2 linked regions of the Homo sapiens genome follow. The protein of the gene in region 1 purifies or fractionates together with the protein of each later gene. This does not show direct contact. Each region holds a gene or a part of one and is shown on either strand. Other genes may lie near its edges.

Region 1 (5,440 bases):
TAGCTGGTATTACAGGCGCCCGCCACCATGCCCGGCTAATTTTTGTATTTTTGGTGGAGACAGGGTTTCACCATGTTGGCCAGGCTGGTCTCGAACTCCTGACCTCAGGTGATCCACCCACCTTAGCTTCCCAAAGTGCTGGGATTACAGGCGTGAGCCACCGCACCTGTCCTACACCTTCTTTATAAATTACCCAGTCTCAGGTATTATTTATAGCAAGGCAAGAATGGCATAATACAGCAGTAGAATCCTATTATTTCAAAATATGGATGCAAAGGCCTGAAGAAACAGCTAAAAGGCTGGCAAAGGTTTGACTCTAGGATGTGGGGCTCAGGGGCTGTGAGGATGGGGACAGAGAAGGCTGTTTTTATTATGTTTTGTAGAATTGTTTGACTTTTTAAGATTAGATTCAAATAAAACTAAATGGCCAGTGCAAGCTAATACTATCCTTATGGTCCCTCCCTTTTCCTACCTCTCCCTAGCCTTCCTCTATCACTCACATTGGAAAGTTACAAAGGTTTGGGGATGTGAAAACTTTTTTCTTCAGAGAATGCTTGCCTACTGTAGCCTTCTGAAATGCACAGAGGCAGGGCGAGATGGTAGCCTTTGCTTTCCTTAGGCAGCCCCACCATAGTGACATCATATTTGTCGTTCTAGGAAAAGTCATTGGAAATTGAAATGTTTGTTCCTTTGGTAGGATACACCATAAATACCTGCTTGACACTTGGCATTTGTTTCACTTAAAAATTATTTTGTTCTGGCTGGGCACAGTGGCTCATGCCTGTAATCCCAGCACTTTGGGAGGCCAAGGTGGGTGGACCACCTGAGGTCAGGAATTCAAGACCAGCCTGACCAATATGGTGAAACCCCATCTACACTAATAATACAAAAATTAGCCGGGTGTGGTGGCATGCACCTGTAGTCCCAGCTACTTGGGAGGCTGAGACAGGGGAATTGCTTGAACCTGGGAGGCAGAGGTTGCAGTGAGCTGAGATTATGCCACTGCACTTCAGCCTAGGTGACAGAGCGAGACTCCCTCTCAAAAAAAAAAAAAAAAAAAGGCTGGGCGTGGTGGCTCACGCCTGTAATCCCAGCACTTTGGGAGGCCGAGGCGGGCGGATCACAAGGTCAGGAGATCGAGACCACGGTGAAACCCCATCTCTACTAAAAATACAAAAAATTAGCCAGGCGCGGTGGCGGGTGCCTGTAGTCCCAGCTACTCGGGAGGCTGAGGCAGGAGAATGGCGTGAACCCGGGAGGCGGAGCTTGCAGGGAGCCAAGATTGCGCCACGGCACTCCAGCCTGGGTGACAGAGTGAGCCTCCGTCTTAAAAAAAAAAAAAAAAAAAAAAAATTATTTAGTTCTTCCACGTGATACATTGTTGCATTGACTTGACACAGTGAAAGTCATTGGTAAAAATGTCCTGGAAGGAACTCACACAGCCAACATGTTTTTCCTTTCCAGGATTCAGAACTGGAGTTTCCTGAAAGACTATGACCCAATGGTAAGGTAAAATATGTTCCTGCCAAACATACTTGCAATTGAATATTACTCATTCTTTCCATCATTCAACTAACATTTATTGAAGATCTACTCTACACCAGATACTGGATGTGCAGCGATGAGTCAAATACACTCTTGTTTCAAGGAATGCAGGGTCCGTTGGATAGAAAACAGTTACATGAAGCATTTAGAAATGTGTTTCCCTCAGTGTTTCTTAATTTTATTAAGATGAACCAATTGGAAATGACAGGCATCTGTTGCTGAAATGTCTCCCCTGATTGAGGATGGCAGCAATATGTAGTCATATCTGTGTGGCGTGCCCGAGAAGGACAATGAGATTGGGTAAAAATACTTTGTAAACAAATTCCCTGACTCTGGTATCACCACCTCCAATCCATCCTCCACATTGCCACCAGACTAATTTCCCTAAACGGCAGAACTGGCCATGTAGCTCCCCTGATTAAAATGCTTCAGTAAGTCTGAAATTTTCAGGTGGCTTACAAAGCCTCCTGTGATCTAAACCATCTATCTCCCCAGCCTCATTACCCACCCCACACAGACCCCACAACACACTTTTTTTTTTTTTTTTTTTTTTTTTGAGATGGAGTCTTGCTCTGTCGCCCAGGCTGGAGTGCAGTGGTGCAATCTTGGCTCACTGCAATCTCCACCTCCTGGATTCTAGTGATTCTCCTGCCTCAGCCTCCTGAGTAGCTGAGATTATAGGTGCACACCACCATGCCTGGCTAATATTTGTATTTTTAGTAGAGAGGGGGTTTCACTATGTTAGCCAGGCTGGTCTCGAACTCCTGACCTCAATTAGCCAACTGCCTCGGCTTCCCAAAGTGCTGGGATTACAGGCATGAGCCACCACACCCAGCCCCCACAACACTCTTTTATCTATGCCTTTGGGCATGCTCGTCCCCTGCTGGAATGTCCTTCCACCTGGTCAGCCTGATGGACTCCTATTCACTCTTCAAGATCCTGCTCTAGTGCCCCCTCTTCTAGGGAATCTCACCTTCCTGGGCAGGCTTGACCAGATCACTCCTTCCTTTGATTCACCAGCATATCTCACCCGTTATTTTGGTATTCCATGTAATGTAATACTGCAATGCCCAATTTCACCAGCTGTGAACTCCTTAAGAGAAAGGATGAGGCCAGGAATGGTGGCCCATGCCTGTACTTGGGGAGGCTGAGGTGGGAGGATCACCTGGACCCATGAGTTCAAGACCAGCCTGGGCAACATAGGGAGACCCTGTCTCTACAAAAATAACATTATTTTTTAAAAAGAGAAAAGATGAATATGAATTCATCACTGCACCCTATCACAACCCTAGCATTTGCCCCATCCCCCAGAGACCATAAAAGAGTGAACATTCAGTTCATGCTGGATGAATGAATGAATGGAAAGATGGATCTCACTACAAAAAGGATGATCAGCTGGATGCGGTGGCTCACGCCTGTAATCTCAACACTTTGGGAGGCCGAGGCAGGTGGATCACCTGAGGTTGGGAGTTCAAGACCAGCCTGACCAACATGGAGAAACCCCATCTCTACTAAAAATACAAAAATTAGCCGGGTGTGCTGGTGCATGCCTGTAATTCCAGCTACTCGGGAGGCTGAGGCAGGAGAATAGCTTGAACCTGGGAGGCAGAGGTTGCAGTGAGCAGAGATCACGCCATTGCACTCCAGCCTGGGCAACAAGAGCAAAATTCAGTCTCAAAAAAAAAAAAAAAAAAAAAGATGGTCAAAGAACCAACCTGGAAGATGAGCAATATGGAAAGTCACTCGAGGGGGTGGCCATGCTTACCTGGACCCTGCCAGGTTGAGGAAAGTTTTAATGCCTGCATTGTGGACCTGCTGGACTTGTTGCTGTCTATTCTGGAGGGAAAATTCAGCTCATGGGACCTGATATCCCGACCTGTGCATCTGGTCTGGGCTTCCAGCCTGTAAGAGTCTCTCCCTGCTAAGGGCTACATGATAGCAACCTGACTACTGAAATCTGCATCATGGCCAAAGGGTGGAGCCACCTCGGCATGGACTTTGCCAGGTGAAAACCATGATCTCCTTACTTGACAGGTCATGTCATTTCTATTAGACACAGGGTAGCAGAAAGGTAACCCTAAACAGGGGCAGGAAGAGCTGAGGATGTTTTCCCACTTGTCAGATTTTTTTTTTTTTTTTTTTTTTTTGAGATACGGTCTCACTCTGTTGCCCAGGCTGGAGTGAAGTAGCATGATCATGGCTCACTGCAGCCTCAACCTCCTGGGCTCTAGTGATCCTCCCACCTCAGCCTCCTGAGTAGCTGGGGCTTACATGCACGTGCCCCCACACCCAACTAATTTTTGTATTTTTTTGTAGAGACGGGGTCTCACCATGTTGCCCAGGCTGGTCTGAATCTTTCCGCCAAGGCTTCTCAAAGTGCCAGGATTAAAGGCAAGAGCCATGGTGCCTGGCCATCAGATTACATTTAGTCATTCATTCATGCATGCATCCGTTACAGAGTTTACCCAAACGCACGTTCACATATGGCCAAAACAGCACTACTCATAAAAGCCCCAAACTAGAATCAACCCAAGTGTGATCAGTGGTGATACAGGTGAATAACTTGTGTGATATTCACACAGTTCACACCATGGAGTACAGTTCACACCATGGAGTACAGTTCACACCATGGAGTAACGTACAGCACTGAGAATGAATGAACGGCAGCCACACTCCAAAGCTGAATGAATCTCACACACATAATGTTGAGAGAAAGAAGCCAGACAGAAGAGCCATGATTCCACTAATGTAAAGTTCAAAACCAGGCAAAGCTAATGCGTGGCATTAGAGGTCAAGGTCAGGGTGCCTTGGGAGCAGAGACAGGGGCTGAGGGGCTGAAAGGAGGTGGGGGAGGGGATCATACCCCTTGATCTGGTTGGGCACATGGGCATCTTCACTTTGTGAACATTTGTCAAGCTGGACAGTGATGGCTTGTGCGTTTTCTGTGTGAATGTTATACTCTTAAGTACAAATTTACCAAAAAAAAAAAAAAAAATCAAAACCTCCCACCAGATGTAAAGTGGCATCTTAGTCCTGGGGATAGAAAGGGGAATAAGACCTGATCCTTCCCTTGATCTCTGCAGGTCGCAGCATGAAAGTTAAGGGATCTGGGAGGCACCTGGGGAAGGGGAAGTGGAGGAAGAGGAGGGACAAGCTTGGCAGAGGCTGTGGCATCGGGTCACTCTTGGGGGATCCCAAGTCCAAACCAGGATTGAATCACCTGGAGATGCTTCACAAAGAGAGGCAGCTGCTCTCTGCTCTGTTTTCTCCCATTCTAAGGTCCTCCTTTTTCCACGCTCTGTGTGACCCGAGCTGTCCCCTCTCCTCAGGGCAACAAGAAGGAGCCTGAGAAGTTGCCAGACCATGTGCCTCTCTTTTCGGACACAGTTCCCAGTTCCACGAACCAGGTTGTGGGCAGCAGGCTGGACACACCCCTGGGACAGACTCTCATCCGCATGGACTTCTTCTTCACAGAAGGGGCCCGGAAGAAGAAGCTGGAGGACCAGATGCAGCCCATCTAGGAGCAAGGAGGGCTGGGCTGGCCTTCCCCAGGTGGGTGTGGGTGGGGACAAGAGACCCAGCCCACAACAGCACCAGTCAGCTCCCCACACAAGGCAGCTTGGGTCTGCACTGTCTGTAAGCTGCAGGACACTCTTCCAGGGGACCCAAGGGGTCACTCTTACACACTTTTTACACGTAAGATTCAGAGGAGTCAGTAACTGGTCCACGGCCGTACAATCCCCAGCCCTTCCAGCTTGGGAACTCATGGGTGCCCCATGAAAGGGACCCTGCATTGTGGTCAGGAGCACTGAATGCCTGGGTTCAAATCCAGCTTGTGACCCTGATGAGCTGTGGGACCTTGAGCTGGCTGCTGCAACACTCTGTGCCTCCGTCT
Region 2 (5,440 bases), on another chromosome or scaffold:
CTTCTTGAAGCTTGTTTATGTGTTATTTTATTTTATTTTATTTTTATTATTATTTCTTTGTGAGACGGAGTCTCGCTCTGTTGCCCAGGCTGGAGTGCAGTGATACGATTTCCACTCACTGCAGCCTCCACCTCCCAGGTTCAAGCAATTCTCCTGCCTCAGCCTCCCGAGTAGCTGGGATTACAGGCACATGACACCACGCCCAGCTAATTTTTCTATTTTTTTAGTAGAGATGGGGTTTCTCCATGTTGGCCAGGCTGGTCTCGAACTCCTGACCTCAGGTGATCTGCCTGCCTCAGCCTCCCAAAGTGATGGGATTACAGGCATGAACCACCATGCTTGGCTGTTTTGGGTTTGTTTGTTTGTTTGTTTGTTTGTTTGTTTTGAGATGGCATCTCACTCTGTCTCCCAGGCTGGAGTGCAGTGGTGGGATCTCAGCTCACTGTAACCTCTGCCTCCCGGGTTTAGGTGACTCTCGTGCCTCAGCCTCCCAAGTAGCTGAGATTACAGGCATGCACCACCACACCTGGCTAATTTTTGTGTATTTAGTAGAGACGGGCTTTCTCCATGTTGGCCAGGCTTGTCTTAAACTCCCAACCTCTCAGGTATGAGCCACCACACCCAGCCCTATTTATTTGTTTTGTTAGAGTGGCGTCTTATCAGACTTTACCCTACGGTTCATATATAATTTAGCCCTACTACTATCAAATACTTTGCTTATTATAAGGTCTCTTGAGTCTGGCTAGTGGAAATGTGAACTACTCCTATCCCTGTGTGACTTTAGGATTTATTCATATACTACTTTCTGGTAGTTCTTTCCCTAGCCTCCTGGAGTTTCACCCTTGTCATTACTGAGCCAGAGATTTGGGGTACAGGTCATGTGTGCTCTGTCTCTGAGTGTGGAGCTTTGTCCTTTCCAGCACTCTGTTCTACAGAGTTTTGCTGCTTGACCACCCTAAACTATGATCTCTGTTTCAACAAAACTGCTACTTTGTCTTTGGCTTACTCTTACCTTCATTGCAGTCTGTAAACTGCCCTCATTTGAATACTTTCTCTCAGGGAAATACTTTTCTTTCACCTTCCTGAATTGCCTGTTATCCAGGGCCTAAAAACAGTTATCTTAACCATTTACTATACATATTACATTAATTTTTATATTTTCTTTTTTTTTTCCAGAACAATATAGCTGAAGTACAAGAATTACATTCTGAATTAATGTGGAAAGATTTTATAGACCACATCAGTAGTCTCCTACACAGTGTGGAAGTGGAAGTCAGTTACTTTGCAGCTGGAATTATTGCCCATTTAATATCCAGAGGTGAACAAGCTTGGACATTGAGTCGTAGCCAGAGGAATTCTCTGCTGGATGATTTGGTAGGGTCATTCCATACCAACAAAAGACATTCATAGTGGTTAAACTATCAAAGCCTCATAATGTAGTAAATAATGCAGTGCTAAATAAATATTGTAATCCTTTCTTGTGTGTCTTTTGTCTTCCAGCATTCAGCTATTTTGAAATGGCCAACTCCAGAGTGTGAGATGGTAGCATACAGGTAATTAGTATCATAATTAACAGTAAACCAGCAACCTAGTCTAGAGATCATTCCTAAGAGTCATTCCTACTAGATGCATAATTTTTCCCTCAGGCACCTCAATATTGGTTATTTATTTATTTATTTTGAGACAGAGTTTCACTCCGTCGCCATGGCTGGAGTGCAGTGCATGATCTTGGCTCACTGCAACCTCCACCTCCCAGGTTGAAGCAATTCCCCTGCCTCAGCCTCCCGAGTAGCTGGGATTATAGGCGCCCACGACCACGCCCCGCTAATTTTTGTATTTTTAGTAGAGACGAGGTTTCACCATGTTGGCCAGGCTGGTCTTGAACTCCTGACCTCAGGTGATCTGCCTGCCTGGGCCCCCCTAAGTGCTGGGATTACAGGCGTGAGCCACCACACCCAGCCAAAAGTATTGGCTTTAAAAGAAGCAAAGTATTTTGACTTTTTTCTACCACCTATCACTCTTCATGTTTCCTTCATTTCACATTTGTTGAAGACAAGTGCTAGGAATTTGTTCTATGCTCTTGAAATACAAAAATGAACAAAGACATGGTGTCTGCACACAAGAATTTTATATCCTTGTGAGGGAGAGTGAATGTGGATCAGATAAAATACCGTTATGCCAAATGTCCATAGAATGTTATGAAATTAAAGGTGAAGCCCAGTGGGGTAGCACATACCTGTAGTCCTGGGAGGATCACTTGAGCCCAGGAGTTTGAGGCTGCAGTGAGTTATGATTGCATCACTGCATTCCAGCCTGAGTGACAGAGCAAGACTCCAAATGTAAATACACACACACACACACACACACACACACCTTTCAGAGGAAGTGAGTTGTGACCTGAGTGTTGAAAGATAAGGAGAGGCAGGAGATTTTTAGGAAGAAAAAGCATCGTATTAATGTAGGAAGGTCTAAAATAAAATGACACATTGAAGGAATTAGAAGTAGCACCAGATTTGGGCCAGGCATTGTGGCTCATGCCTATAATCCCAGCACTTTGGGAGGCTGAGGTGGGTGGATCACTTCAATCCAGGAGTTCGAGACCAGCTTGGCCAACATGTTGAAACCCCTGTCTCTACTGAAAGAACAAAGTTAGTGGGGCATGGTGGTGCACACCTGTAATTCCAGCTACTTGGGAGGCTGAGGCATGAGAATCGCTTGAACTTGGGAGGTGGAGGTTGCAGTGAGCTGAGATGGCGCCACTGCACTGCAGCCTGGGTGACAGAATGAGACTCTCAAAAAAGGAATAACACTAGATTTGGTTGGGGAAACAGTTTGTAATAATTTATTAAAGGGCATACTGGGCCTGGCATGGTGGCTCACACCTATAATCCCAACACTTTGAGAGACTGAGGTGGTAGTATCACTTGAGTTCAGGAGTTGCAGACTAGCCTAGGCATCATAGTGAGACCTCATCTCTACTAAAAAATAAAAAAACCTGGGCATGATGGCATACACCTGTAGTCCCACCACTTCGGAAGGCCAAGGCAGGTAGATCACTTGAGCTCAGCCTGAGCAACATAGTGAGACCCCGTCTCTACAAAAAATAAAAAATTAGCCAGTTGTGGTGGCACATCCCTGTAGTCCAAGCTGCTTGGGAGGCTAAGGTGGGAGAATCGCTTGAGCCTGGAAGGTTGAGGCTGCAATGAGTTGAGATCGCCTTACTGCACTCCAGCCTGAGCAACAGAGTGAGACCCTGTCTCAAATAAATAAATAAATGTAAAAATAAATAAATAGGCCGGGCATGGTGGCTCATGCCTGTAATCCCAGCACTTTGGGAGGCCGAGGCGGGCAGATCACGAGGTCAGGAGATCGAGACTATCCTGGCTAACGTGGTGAAACCCCGTCTCTACTAAAAATACAAAAAAATTAGCCGGGCGTGGTGGCAGGCGCCTGTAGTCCCAGCTACTTGGGAGGCTGAGGCAGGAGAATGCCGTGAACCCAGGAGGCGGAGGTTGCAGTGAGCTGAGATCGCGCCACTGCACTCCAGCCTGGGCGACAGAGCGAGACTCCGTATCAAAATAAATAAATAAATAAATAACAAAAATTAAGAAGTGCATACTGGATGCCTAACTCTGTTTGTAATTAGATAACTTGATAATTAAATTACTAATTACCTGAAGTATTTAATTTTTATTCAACTTATTTTTTTTGTTTGGTTCATAAATGCTGATGTTGCCAACATTTTTTTTATTTCTCCAACTTATGTTCCACCTATTTTTATTCAGACCAGTAGAAAATAGAAGGGATAATTATACATCTTTTTCATAGTGTTCTACTAGTTAGTTATCACCTAATTTCTCTATTTCTTAGTTTCCAAACCAAGATCTACTTATCTTCAAATGTGTATCTTTAAGACTAAAAAGTGCTTTTGGAAAAATTTTTTCTCTTTCACTACCATGTTCTAATCACCTTCCATCTTCTGTACTGAGTCATGTCTGAATGCAGTCTTCTCTGAAATGGTTAAGACAAAGAAATGATATTCTATAGCTCATTTATATTAGTCTAAATATAATAGGATAAAATTTTGAAAATGAAAAGTTTAGGAATCACTGCTTTAGGAAATTACGCTAAATATGGGATGTAACTTTGATTCTTTTCTTTTGAACCTTTAGGTCCTTTAATCCATTTTTCCCATTACTTGGCTGTTTCACAACACCAGGAGTTCAGCTATGGGCAGTTTGGGCCATGCAACATGTCTGCAGCAAGAATCGTATGTACCAAAAAAAAAGAACTGTGTTTTTTTTCTTTAAGTGAAATTCTCATTTCCCAGGAAAGATATTTCTAAATTGTGTATTAAAGTGATTTTTAAGAACACTGACTTAAAATGTAAGGCCATCTTAGGTTATAAACTTAAGGTATTCTTTTTTTTTTTTTTTTTTTTTTTTTGAGACGAAGTCTCGCTCTTGTTCCCCAGGCTGGAGTACAGTGGCGCGATCTCGGCTCACTGGAACCTCCGCCTCCTGGGTTCAAGCGATTCTCCTGCCTCAGCCTCCCGAGTAGCTGAGATATCAGGCACCTGCCACCATGCCCGGCTAATTTTTGTATTATTATTATTTTTTTTTAGTAGAGACGGGGTTTCACCATGTTGGCCAGGCTGGTCTCAAACTCCTGACCTCAGGTGATCCGCCCGCCTAAGCCTCCCAAAGTGCTGGGATTACAGGCATAAGCCACTGTGCCCGGCCAACTTAAGGTATTCTTTCAGAATGAGCATGGTGTAACTAGACACTGAATAATAGTGGTGAATGAGACACTGTTCTCACCTCAAGGAATTTAAAGATTAGGAGACTACAGTGAGTCCATTTGTTGAGTAAAAGGTCTTAAGTAGATCCACTGTTTATGGTACATTCCGGTGCCCAATTCTCATTCACCCAAAATTCTGTTGTTCAAGATGTCGCTGCCAGCACCCATGGTTTCTGAAGAAGCAAAGTGTTTGAATCAGGTTCTATATTATTCTTTGAAAGCTACGATGTAACTCTTATTTATTTATTTAGAGACAAGGTCTGTCTCTATCACTGGAGCTGGAGTGCAGTGGCATAGTAACAGCTCACTGCAACCTTGACGTCCAGGCTCAGATGATCCTCCTGCCTCAGCTTGTAGCTAGGACTACAAGTGCACGTCACCATACCTGGCTTTTTTTTGTATTTTTTGTAGAGATGGGGTTTCATCATGTTGGCCAGGCTGGTGTCAAACTCCTAGGCTCGAACGATCTGCCTGCCTCTTCCTCCCAAAGTGCTGGCATTACAGGCGTCAGCCATCAAGCGTGGCCTAATTATTTATTAATATAAACTCATTCCACAAATGATTTGACACAAGAAATACACAGAACCACTTTAATAGTAAAGTGTGTATATATATGTGTATATATATATATATATATATA

What was found. The genes of interacting proteins can lie anywhere in the genome.
Region 2: the proteins of CIMIP5 (region 1) and ZYG11B purify together in Homo sapiens (affinity purification with mass spectrometry; one large-scale study listed by BioGRID and IntAct). This does not show direct contact.

What each region holds. Positions count from the first base shown.
Region 1 is NC_000002.12:11,139,046-11,144,485, forward strand, and holds part of CIMIP5 (ciliary microtubule inner protein 5), read left to right. Parts: intron 1-1,464; coding exon 1,465-1,504; intron 1,505-4,874; coding exon 4,875-5,066; 3' UTR 5,067-5,440.
Region 2 is NC_000001.11:52,812,360-52,817,799, forward strand, and holds part of ZYG11B (protein zyg-11 homolog B), read left to right. Parts: intron 1-1,176; coding exon 1,177-1,374; intron 1,375-1,500; coding exon 1,501-1,553; intron 1,554-4,172; coding exon 4,173-4,270; intron 4,271-5,440. UniProt on the Homo sapiens protein: Serves as substrate adapter subunit in the E3 ubiquitin ligase complex ZYG11B-CUL2-Elongin BC. Acts to target substrates bearing N-terminal degrons for proteasomal degradation with the first four residues of substrates being the key recognition elements.